2 separate regions of the Homo sapiens genome follow, and region 2 is linked to region 1. The links come from fine-mapping of genetic effects on gene expression. A gene starts in region 1. The other region holds a variant in brackets. All regions are shown on one strand. Distances are from middle to middle. Region 1 holds the start of TSEN34 (tRNA splicing endonuclease subunit 34). Region 2 holds the start of LOC124904768 (a long non-coding RNA gene).

What was found.
Region 2: its variant is fine-mapped to the expression of TSEN34 in whole blood (TOPMed, PIP above 0.99).

Annotation. Positions count from the first base shown.
Region 1 is chr19:54,188,596-54,193,953 of GRCh38, reverse strand. It overlaps TSEN34 (tRNA splicing endonuclease subunit 34), which reads right to left and starts at 2,646. Exons shown (of 4, transcript NM_001077446.4): 1 at 2,347-2,646; 2 at 1,990-2,233; 3 at 1,581-1,838; 4 at 1-779. The coding sequence starts at 2,589. The coding sequence ends at 592. It overlaps MBOAT7 (membrane bound acylglycerophosphatidylinositol O-acyltransferase MBOAT7), which reads left to right and starts at 4,374. Exons shown (of 8, transcript NM_024298.5): 1 at 4,374-4,616. RefSeq lists enhancers at 1,194-1,710, 3,679-4,360, 4,361-5,046 and a silencer at 2,555-2,756.
Region 2 is chr19:54,216,889-54,222,246 of GRCh38, reverse strand. It overlaps LILRB3 (leukocyte immunoglobulin like receptor B3), which reads left to right. Exons shown (of 13, transcript NM_006864.4): 4 at 117-419; 5 at 868-1,164; 6 at 1,417-1,719; 7 at 2,042-2,092; 8 at 3,002-3,118; 9 at 3,409-3,484; 10 at 3,565-3,602; 11 at 3,834-3,886; 12 at 4,773-4,928; 13 at 5,008-5,358. The coding sequence ends at 5,154. It overlaps LOC124904768 (a long non-coding RNA gene), which reads right to left and starts at 3,352. Exons shown (of 3, transcript XR_007067339.1): 1 at 2,643-3,352. RefSeq lists enhancers at 3,690-4,525, 4,526-5,358. The variant A/G (reference allele first, on the strand shown) is at 2,404.

The sequences.
Region 1 (5,358 bases):
CTGTGGGATTACAGGTGTGGGTCATCGTGCCCAGCCTATATTTTTATTTATAACGTTTGTATGCATCTGGGAAATTTCATAGAAATCTTTTCAAAAGGAAGTTTAGTGAGGTAGAAAGAGTGCAGATTTAGGAGTCAGAAAAACCAATTTTGAAAGGCCAGGCCTGCTATTTACTAAGTGTGTGACTTTGGGCAAGTCAGTCCCCCTCCTCCAGGCCTTTTTCTCACCTGTACATGCAGATGAGACCATCCACGGGTTCCAGGACTGTCGCAAACATTCAAATCATGAACATTTATATACCAAGTTTATTGAGACCTCCTGAGACTTAAACCCTGTAGAAAACAGATGAATCAAACCCAGGCCCCATTCTCGGGAAGCTCACAGTGTGAAAATAGGTAACTACAAAAACACAGCCAATAAGTGCTTTGAAACAAGGAAGAACATAAAAAAGATGTAGTGTTCGAAAACCTGGAATCAAAAACTAACCGCGGAGAAAGGTAGGAGGATGTTCTAGACTCCCAGAGAAGAGCTGGGGAACATCCAGAAAGGCTCTTGCTGCCGACACAGCCACATCCCCTAGGTCTCTGGAGTTCACTGCAGGCTGGCCCATTGCAGGGAGGTGTAGACCACCTTACCATCAGGCTGCGGAGAACAGAGGAGCAGGGTCTTTCTGACGCTGGTTCCAAGGCGCCCAGCAGCAACCAGGTCTTGGAGTGGGATGGTGTCCTCAGGGGCCCAGCACTGAGCGATATAATGGGCGTGGAAGCGGAGGGGGTCACCTGGGGGAAGGAGAGAGGCACTGAAGCAGTGACCAATGGCAGACGGCTGGACGCCACGGGAACGACCACTGGGAGGAGATCTGAGATCATTTCAGCCATCACTATAGATACTCTAAAACAGATGCTCTTGGACACAACTATTCCACTTCTAGGCTTTTTTTTTTTTTTTGAGACAAAGTCTCGCTCTTGTCCCCCAGGCTGGAGTGCAATGGCACGATCTTGGCTCACTACAACCTCTGCCCCCTGGGTTCACATGATTCTCCTGCTTCAGCCTCCCGAGTAGCTGGAAATACAGGCACCCACCACCACGCCCAGTTAGTTTTAGTATTTTTAGTAGAGATGGGGTTTCACCATGTTGGCCAGACTGGTATCAAACTCCTGACCTCAGGTGATCCACCTGTCTTGGCCTCCCAAAGTGTTGGGATTACAGGCGTGAGCCATTGCGCCCAGCCTGATGTCTAACTACTTCTAAGTGAATCTTCTGGATCACAGTAATCATTTAATAAAAGTCGTTAAACTGCTTGCCCAATGAGTTCGGGAGCTCCCAAATGTTTCCTGTCTGTCTATGAATTTCAGAGGCTAAGAGAAAGTGAGACAAAAAAGAAAAATGCAGCTGGGCCTATAATTCCAGCACTTTGGGGGGCCGAGGTGGAAGGATTGCTTGAGCCCAGGAATAGGGACCAGCCTAAGCAACAAGAGACCCCACCTCTATTAAGACAAAAAAAAAAAAAAAGAAAAACGCAGAATACATTGGGATCGTATGGAAAGGCACAGCAACCAGAGGCCCCAACCCATACTCACCAGGATAGACCAGGAAGTCACCTCCGAACTTGCCAGCCGCACTGAGGAAGAAGCCTCGCTCCCACAGGTCTCTGTAGATACTGTAGCGCAGCTCGTGGGCAGGGCGGCCGGCGTGGGGCCAGTCTTTAGACTGGACACGCCAGTCCAGGGGCCTGGCCTTGACCGGTCGAGGCCTGGCAGTGGCCAGCTGGACAAGGAGAGCAGATCTGGGCAAGGGGGCTACCCCATTTGAGGGTCCTGCTTGGGAAGACGAGGGGCCTGGTGGGGAGTACAGAGAAGAGTTTGGTAAATTCAAGGGGTAAAGTCTTCTCACCCTCAGGGAGACCCAGGCACTGGATTCCCAGCTAAAATTCCTAAAAGATCTCTCCTCTCCTTCCCGTGGTCCCTGGACTCCACCTCCCATGCTCACCAGCTTCCTCCTGCTCTCCCGAAGCCTGGCCATCACTGGTCTCATCCTCTTTGGCAGCCTGGCTCGAGCCGGCCTCCTGGCTTGAGCTGGCCCCTGAAGCCTGTTCTAGTTTCTGCTTCTTAGCAGCCTGGCCCTCCGTAATCTTCTCCAGGAGCTCCTGACGACGGGTCTCCCGGGCCTCAGCTGCCAAGGCGCTCTGCTCCTGGAAGCTCTCCTCTTGCTGGCGCTTGAAGGATGTCAGGGCCTGAGAAGCACACTTCGCTGGAACCTCCAAGCTTATGGTCCCTTCAGAAGCCAGGAAACTTGACTCCCAGGTCCCGCTCCCACCGAACCCGAGTTCGAGCCCCGCCCCCTTACCAGGCTGTGGTGCCGAGAGTCTGGACGCGGGGCGCTGACCAGAGTCACGGCGCCGATCTCGGCCAAGAGCCGCGCCTCTTCGGGCATCAGCAGCAGCGGGAGGCCCAGGCGCGAGTTCTGGCGGGGCCCGCGGGGCAGGGCGCCTACCGTGCGGCCCCCCACACCCAGGCGCTCCCGGAGGGCCTGCACCGCCTCGGCTCCCCACACCAGGGAGCGGCCGTTCGCCACCTCCACCACCAGCATCCTCCTGCGGGAGCCGGGAGGCAAAGCAGTTACCGAAACAGCTGCGCGCCGCGGACCGCTGCAGCGCACCCAAAGCCTCCGGGGTCTCGGCGAAGCCCCGCCCCTAGGCCTCAGGGGGCGGGGCCTCGCTCAGCCGCCGTTCACCACCTGCTGGGCCCGAGCGCCAGGCCCCGCCCCCGGGCGATCCCACCAGGCCTCGCGGCCGCCGGAGACGAGACGCCGGAGACAAGCCCCCGACCCTCTCCCCTCGCCAAGCCCCCAGGGTCCCGCTCTACCCTTGTGACCCTGCGGTCGGCACCCGCTCTGTGCCCGCACTGCCGTACCTACCATTGCGCCTTGGAGCGTGAAAAACAAACCTCCGCAAGCGCGGCGACACGCCCCCTTACAAAGGTCCATTTTGGCACCACCCTCTTGCAAAGTGGGCGTCCCCCTTCGGGTGTTCCCGTCAGCGGTCAGAAGCTCTGGAGGCTAAGGCACCGCCGAGGCCACACCCTCTTCCGGACGCTCGAGCCTTCGCTCCTCCTCTTTCCGAACGACTGTGATTCGGCTTTCGGACCTCCTCGCTCTCAGACTCCCACAGTACAAAACCCTGCCCCCTCCCGAGCACAGGAAGTTCGGCGTTCGGGCGTCCTCGGCTCCACCGAATCCGCAGCCCCGCCCCCTTCTCGAACGCCAGCAATTTGACGTTCGGGTGTTCTCGGCTCGGCCGAATCCGTAGCCCCGCCTCCTCCCGGACGCAATAGGTTCGGCGTTCGGGCGTCATCGGCTCCCGGCAGCCTCGCGGCCTGTGGCCCCGCCCCCTCCGAGCGCCAGCGCACCCCAGTTGGGGAGTTCCCGCCCTACGACCGAACCCCACAGCCGAAAGCCCCGCCCCCTGGACACCCGCCGTCCACTCTCCGCTCGGGCGGGCTCACCCCAATTGGGAGCGCTCAGTCCGCCTCCTTGCCTCCCTTCAGAATGTCCCACTGTCCACCGATAGAACCAGCGAGTCACCTCATAAACAGTAATTCGCAGTCGAGGTGGAGCCACCCACTGCGCACCGCGCCACGCGCTCCTTGCTCCACCCCCTCATGCCGACACCCTCGTCAACTTCGTCATCCCGCCCCATCAGCGCCGCGGGAAGTCAGGTCCCGCCCCTCGCAGGACCGAAGCCCCGCCCTCCTCCCGCGGGGGCCACCTTGGCTCCGCCCCACTGAGCGCACCTCCCTCTGCCGCTTCCTCTCCTCTACTTGGGAACTTGAGGATCGTCATCCTGGCCCGGTCCCGTAGGCGCACGCCGGCCCTCGGGGTTCCGCCCCTTTGAGGGCAAGTCGCTTTCGCCCCGCCCCCTTGTAAATACTCATGGGTGTCTGGCGAACCTGTTGACTCCGCCTATCATCCTAGCGTCACTTGTACCCAACTATCTACGAAGTAAACCGAAGCTTGTGGCCCCACCCACATCCGGCCGAGTCTGTGGCCCCGCCCACATCGGAACAGTGACCCTAAGGACTCGACTACCTCCGAAGAAAGCCGAAACATGTGGCTCCGCCCACAGTGGCCTCAGCTCTCCGTTCTCGACTATTGCCGAAGTGAGCCGAAGTTTGTGGCCCCGCTTCCGGAGAACTCAAGCTCCCGATTGTGCCCGAAGGAACCCGAAGGGAGACCCCGCCTCATTCCTCACGCCGAGCTCCAGACCCCGCCTCCTTTCCAGAGCCCGTCTGTTCCCCTTCGGGTCCAAAGCTTTTGGCTCCTCCTTGTTCCGAGCCCGAAGGCCCGCCCCTTCACGTACTCGGAGCTCGGATCCCAGTGTGGACCTGGACTCGAATCCCGTTGCCGACTCGCGCTCTCGGCTTCTGCTCCGGGGCTTCTTCCCTGCCCGCCCGGGGCCCTGACCGTGGCTTCTTCCCCGGCCTGATCTGCGCAGCCCGGCGGGCGCCCAGAAGGAGCAGGCGGCGCGGGGGCGCGCTGGGCGGGGGAGGCGTGGCCGGAGCTGCGGCGGCAAGCGGGCTGGGACTGCTCGGCCGCCTCCTGCCCGGCGAGCAGCTCAGGTGGGCCAGGGTGGCGGCGCCCAGTGGCGAGGCGAGGTTACACGGCGGCAGGGTCTCTGCGGGCTGGCGGGTGCGGGGCGGCCCCGGAGGCGCGTTGGAACTCGGGGCTGGCGCAACCGCCTGTGGCTCTGCCGGGGATGCGCTGGGGTGCGCGGGACGGGTTGGGGCTGGGCCTGGGCCTGGGCCTGGGGAGGGGAGGGTGTTCGATCCCCGGGTTCTCAGTAGGAGAGGGGTGTGGAGCTCCGAAGGAGGTGCAGGTTGGAGACCCGGGCTCCTCTGGGTGGTCTCGAAGGAGAAGGGCTGGGGGGTCCGGATATCTGGTTTCACAAGGGCCGGGGGATGGGGGATCCAAAGAGGGGGTCTGGGTTCCTGGATCCTCGCTGGAAGAGGGGGCTCGGAGGTCTAGATTCCTGGGCTGTCGAAGAGGAAGGGTCCGGGAGGGGTGCCGTTTCTGGGTTTTTAAAAGAGGGGCGTCTTCAAATCTGGGTCCCCAGTATGGGTGCGGGGAGTAGCTTTGATTTCTGCGTTCGCAAAGGAGGGGCTTGGGTGCTGGGAGATCCCCACACTTTCCTGGGTTCTCCAAGGACAGGAGAGCTGGAGGCCTGTGCGCTCAAAGGAGGGGCTGGGGGTGGATTCCTGTCTCCTCCAAGGAGGAAGGGGCTGGAGTCTGGGTTGCTAGGTTCTCAAAGGAGAGGAGCTGAGGCTCATACTCCATCATCCTCAAAAACTGGGGTCTAGAAGG
Region 2 (5,358 bases), 28 kb before region 1:
GCTCTGCCCTCAGGAAGGGGGTCGGCTCTCAGGGGCGTCTCCCTCTCACAGCCCAGCCCTGGGGATGATGTGGGAGGTGGGAGCCCCATTTAACACGGTGCCTCTTTCTCTCCTAGGATTCTACAACAAACCCACCCTCTCAGCCCTGCCCAGCCCTGTGGTGGCCTCAGGGGGGAATATGACCCTCCGATGTGGCTCACAGAAGGGATATCACCATTTTGTTCTGATGAAGGAAGGAGAACACCAGCTCCCCCGGACCCTGGACTCACAGCAGCTCCACAGTGGGGGGTTCCAGGCCCTGTTCCCTGTGGGCCCCGTGACCCCCAGCCACAGGTGGAGGTTCACATGCTATTACTATTATACAAACACCCCCTGGGTGTGGTCCCACCCCAGTGACCCCCTGGAGATTCTGCCCTCAGGTGAGGGAGCCACGGCCTTGTCTAACACACTTTCGGGGCAGCTGACAGGTTGTGGGGAGTTTGGCTGGTGACTGAATCTGGAAAGGACCCAGAGTGATGTGTTGAAGGACGGGCTGAAGGCATGAGGGAGACCCCATGGGGAGGCTCTGACATGGGAGGAGGAGCCCTTGACCACGTTCACCTGGAAGGGGAGGACTCAGGAAGGCATCGGTGTGTTTGCTGTGAGGTCCCAGCTCTCAGGGAGAGGAGGAAAGATCAGGCACAGTGGCCAGGGCTAGGGAGACCCCACTCCTCTGAAATGACTCCAAGACAGCCCCGGGTGAGAAGGAGGCCCTGGGGTCAGAGACTCAGAGCGTGAGAGACAGTGAGACCTGCAGGGCCAGGACGGGAGAAGGAAGGGGCGTGGGAGGAACCAGCCCTCTCAGTCCTGGCTCCTCTTTCCCTCCAGGCGTGTCTAGGAAGCCCTCCCTCCTGACCCTGCAGGGCCCTGTCCTGGCCCCTGGGCAGAGCCTGACCCTCCAGTGTGGCTCTGATGTCGGCTACGACAGATTTGTTCTGTATAAGGAGGGGGAACGTGACTTCCTCCAGCGCCCTGGCCAGCAGCCCCAGGCTGGGCTCTCCCAGGCCAACTTCACCCTGGGCCCTGTGAGCCGCTCCTACGGGGGCCAGTACAGGTGCTATGGTGCACACAACCTCTCCTCCGAGTGGTCGGCCCCCAGTGACCCCCTGGACATCCTGATCACAGGTGAGGAGCCCAGCGGGTTCAGTCAGGGACCCAGGCTCTGCACAGGCCCTGCCGGGGGAGCCCAGGTGGTGATGGCCGGGATGAGGGGTGGGGGTCCCAAGGGAGGGAGAGACAGACAGAGACAGGGGATGGGGGGAGGGGAGACTCAGAGAAAACAGGGACAGAGACACTGAGGGTCCCAGGGAGAGGCCTGGGGAGGTGTCAGCTCAGAGCAAGGTGGGGCAGCCCCTCACCCATCCTTCTTCTCTCCAGGACAGATCTATGACACCGTCTCCCTGTCAGCACAGCCGGGCCCCACAGTGGCCTCAGGAGAGAACATGACCCTGCTGTGTCAGTCACGGGGGTATTTTGACACTTTCCTTCTGACCAAAGAAGGGGCAGCCCATCCCCCACTGCGTCTGAGATCAATGTACGGAGCTCATAAGTACCAGGCTGAATTCCCCATGAGTCCTGTGACCTCAGCCCACGCGGGGACCTACAGGTGCTACGGCTCACGCAGCTCCAACCCCCACCTGCTGTCTTTCCCCAGTGAGCCCCTGGAACTCATGGTCTCAGGTGAGGGCGCTGACCCCGTCCTCTCTGAGCTCAAAGGCTCAGCTCCGGCCCAGGCCCCCAGGAGAGCTCTCGGCTGGGATGGACCGAGGGAGGCTGTGAGGGAGGCTTAGCCAGAGGGCACCCAGCCCTCAGAGGGGAGGAGGCCAACAGGGGTTCTCCTAGGCGTGGCCACCCGTTCTCCCCTGCCTGGCATGCAGAAGGCACCAGGTGGGCAGAGAGATGGTTCCAGGGAATCCACTGGGCGGAAGCAGGAGAGTGGGAGTGGAAGGGTGCACTCCATGGACGGCCCCCGCCCCTCACCCGCCTCCCGTGCTCCTTCCAGGACACTCTGGAGGCTCCAGCCTCCCACCCACAGGGCCGCCCTCCACACCTGGTGAGTCACTGAGGCCTCTTGGGGAGCGCCGCCTCCCCCAGGGCAGTCTGAGTCTCCCAAAGGATCCCACTCCCCTCCCCTCAAGGACGGGCTTGTGTCCCAGGGGCTCTGAGGCTGGGCTGGTGAGGGGCGGGGGTCGAGGCAGAGGGAGATGTTGGGGCCCAGCCAGGAGGAGGAGCCGGGCTGATGTGGGGGGCAAGACAGCCCCAGCCTTCACCTCCCTGTCCTGACCCAGGAGGTCCTGAGGACCAGCCCCTTAACCCCCCAGGGTCAGGCCCTCAGAATGGTGAGTGAGGGGCTCTGAGTGGGAG[A/G]TGGGCGGGGTCCAGGGGAGGCAGGGGTGGGTTCTGTCCTAGGTTCAGGCTCCTCTGGAGGTGGTGATGTGGACAGGCCCCTCCCCTGCCTGGGCCTCAGTTTCTCCAAGTGTAAAGGAGAGAGGCCTGTGGGTGGGAAAGTTCCTTTCAGCTCTGACCCCCAGCTGTGACCTCCTGGGAGAGGAGGCCTCCCAGGGAACCTCCCAGACCCGATTCCACAGGGGCCTGTCCCGTCCCACCTGCAGCAGTGACGGTGACCTGGGGCAGGGGAGGGGAGCAGGGCCGTGGTTCAGGACGGTCAGGCTCTTTCCCTGCAGCTCCGGGTCTCGGCTCTGGTGCAGGAACAAGGGCTGCAGGTCAGACTCCCGGGCTCCCTTCCCAGCTCTGCCGCTTCCTCGCTGGAGGCCTGGGGCAGGCGACTCCCTGCTCTGAGCCTCAGTTTGTGCATCTGTGAAATGGGTTGTACGGGTGGCAATTCCATGTTGCACGACTGCTTGTGAGGGTTGGAGGTCACGAAGGAAAGACCTGGCTCGCGCCTGCACACAGTAGGTGCTCACATCAATGACATCATTCCCACTCCTGACGTCCTCATGTCAAGGTCTGGGAAGATACCTGGAGGTTTTGATTGGGGTCTCGGTGGCCTTCGTCCTGCTGCTCTTCCTCCTCCTCTTCCTCCTCCTCCTCCGTCAGCGTCACAGCAAACACAGGACATCTGGTGAGTAGGGAAGCGGGGGACCCATGGGTCGACCGAGGGTGGGCTCAGGGCACCAGCCAGAGGGAACCCAAACACACAGGGGTGTCAGTTTAGAAAACCGGTTCCAGGGGCACGTAATTTCAATACGCATTTACAAACTTCAGTATTCATGGGAGTTTTTTTCTATCTCATAAAATATTTGGAACATCCATGCAGGAATATTTTTAGTTTTCCTTCTTTCCCTCAAGTTGCATGTGTAGAATGGGAGTTCTAATGTTCCCAGGGCTGAGACTCTGTCCATCTTCACCCAGACCAGAGAAAGACTGATTTCCAGCGTCCTGCAGGGGCTGCGGAGACAGAGCCCAAGGACAGGGGCCTGCTGAGGAGGTAATTCTGCCCCAAAGACCACAGACTCCCACCCACCACAGCCCATACACTGCCCCTCACACTCCCATGTCCTCCTCCAGGTCCAGCCCAGCTGCTGACGTCCAGGAAGAAAACCTCTGTAAGAGGAAGAGAGGGGACAAATGGGGGTGCTGGAGAGACAGGAGTCCCAAAATTTCAGTAGCAACAGGGAGGGGCTGGGAAGGGTCTGGGGCTCCGTGGAAGATGGTCTTGCCCCACACTGTGGGACCTCCCTGCATTCGGTGGCCCCATCTGGGAGCAGGGCAGGGGGCCAGCAGGACTGAGAGGTCTCAGAGAACCAGGAGACGAACCCCTTGCTCTGCCCCAGCAGATGCTGCTGTGAAGGACACACAGTCTGAGGACAGGGTGGAGCTGGACAGTCAGGTGAGATCCCGCCCCGTCCCAGGCACCAAAGGCCTCCTGGTGCCAGATCTAATCCTGCAGGACTTCTCTGTCCTCCTTCCCCCGGCTCTCAGCATCGTCACGGTGGACCCCTCCTTGTCCAGCATGCTGCCTCCCGCCTGCTGTGACCTCACTCTCTTCTGCTGTCCTGGGACCTCGTGGGCCTCCTCCCGGGTCCCCTTCCTGCTCCTCATCCTCTGTTTGGCCGTCTGGTTGTTAGAGCTCTCCCCAGGCCTCAGGAGGATGACGAATAAATGAACCACCTCCGTCCCCTGGGCTCCTCTTCATTCATTCATCCAGCGAGTGTTCCCAGGGAGCTCACTGTGGATGGGGCTCCCCATGGGAGCTGCAGACACAGCAGGGAGCAAAGCCGCCCCCGCCTCCTGAGCTCACCTCACGGTGGGAGACAAAATGCAAATAAATGCATCGTGTCCAGGAGTGCAACGTGCTGTAAGGAACATACACCAGGGAAAGGGCAGAGAGTGTGGGGCAGTGGGGCCAGTCTGAATGGAAGGGGAGGGCTGTCTGCTCAGCTGTCATCTGAGAAGCCTGGACAGAGTGGGGCACATGATCCTCTGATGGACGAGCCCCTGCAGGCAGAGGAAACAGCCGTGCAAAGGCCCCCAGGCAGCAGCGAGCTCTTGCAGGAAGGCCTGTGAGGCTGCAGCCAAATGGGCAAGGTCAGAGTGAGGAGCAGAGGCCAGAACCACAGGGAGGGAGCGGCCAGACCCTCCACGGCCTTAGGGCGTCCCTGAGATTCCATCAGGAAAGGGATGTAATCGGATCACCCCGGGAACAGTGAGGAAAATTGACTCCAGGAGGTCAGGGGGACTCAAGGACACCCCCCACCACTGTCTCTCTCCAGCAGAGCCCACACGATGAAGACCCCCAGGCAGTGACGTATGCCCCGGTGAAACACTCCAGTCCTAGGAGAGAAATGGCCTCTCCTCCCTCCTCACTGTCTGGGGAATTCCTGGACACAAAGGACAGACAGGTGGAAGAGGACAGGCAGATGGACACTGAGGTGAGTCCTTTCCTCTCCAGGCCCCCAGGCCTCCCCCACCCCCACCACGTTCCTTACCTCTCACTCTCCCCCGCTGCAGGCTGCTGCATCTGAAGCCTCCCAGGATGTGACCTACGCCCAGCTGCACAGCTTGACCCTTAGACGGAAGGCAACTGAGCCTCCTCCATCCCAGGAAGGGGAACCTCCAGCTGAGCCCAGCATCTACGCCACTCTGGCCATCCACTAGCCCGGGGGGTACGCAGACCCCACACTCAGCAGAAGGAGACTCAGGACTGCTGAAGGCACGGGAGCTGCCCCCAGTGGACACCAGTGAACCCCAGTCAGCCTGGACCCCTAACACAGACCATGAGGAGACGCTGGGAACTTGTGGGACTCACCTGACTCAAAGATGACTAATATCGTCCCATTTTGGAAATAAAGCAACAGACTT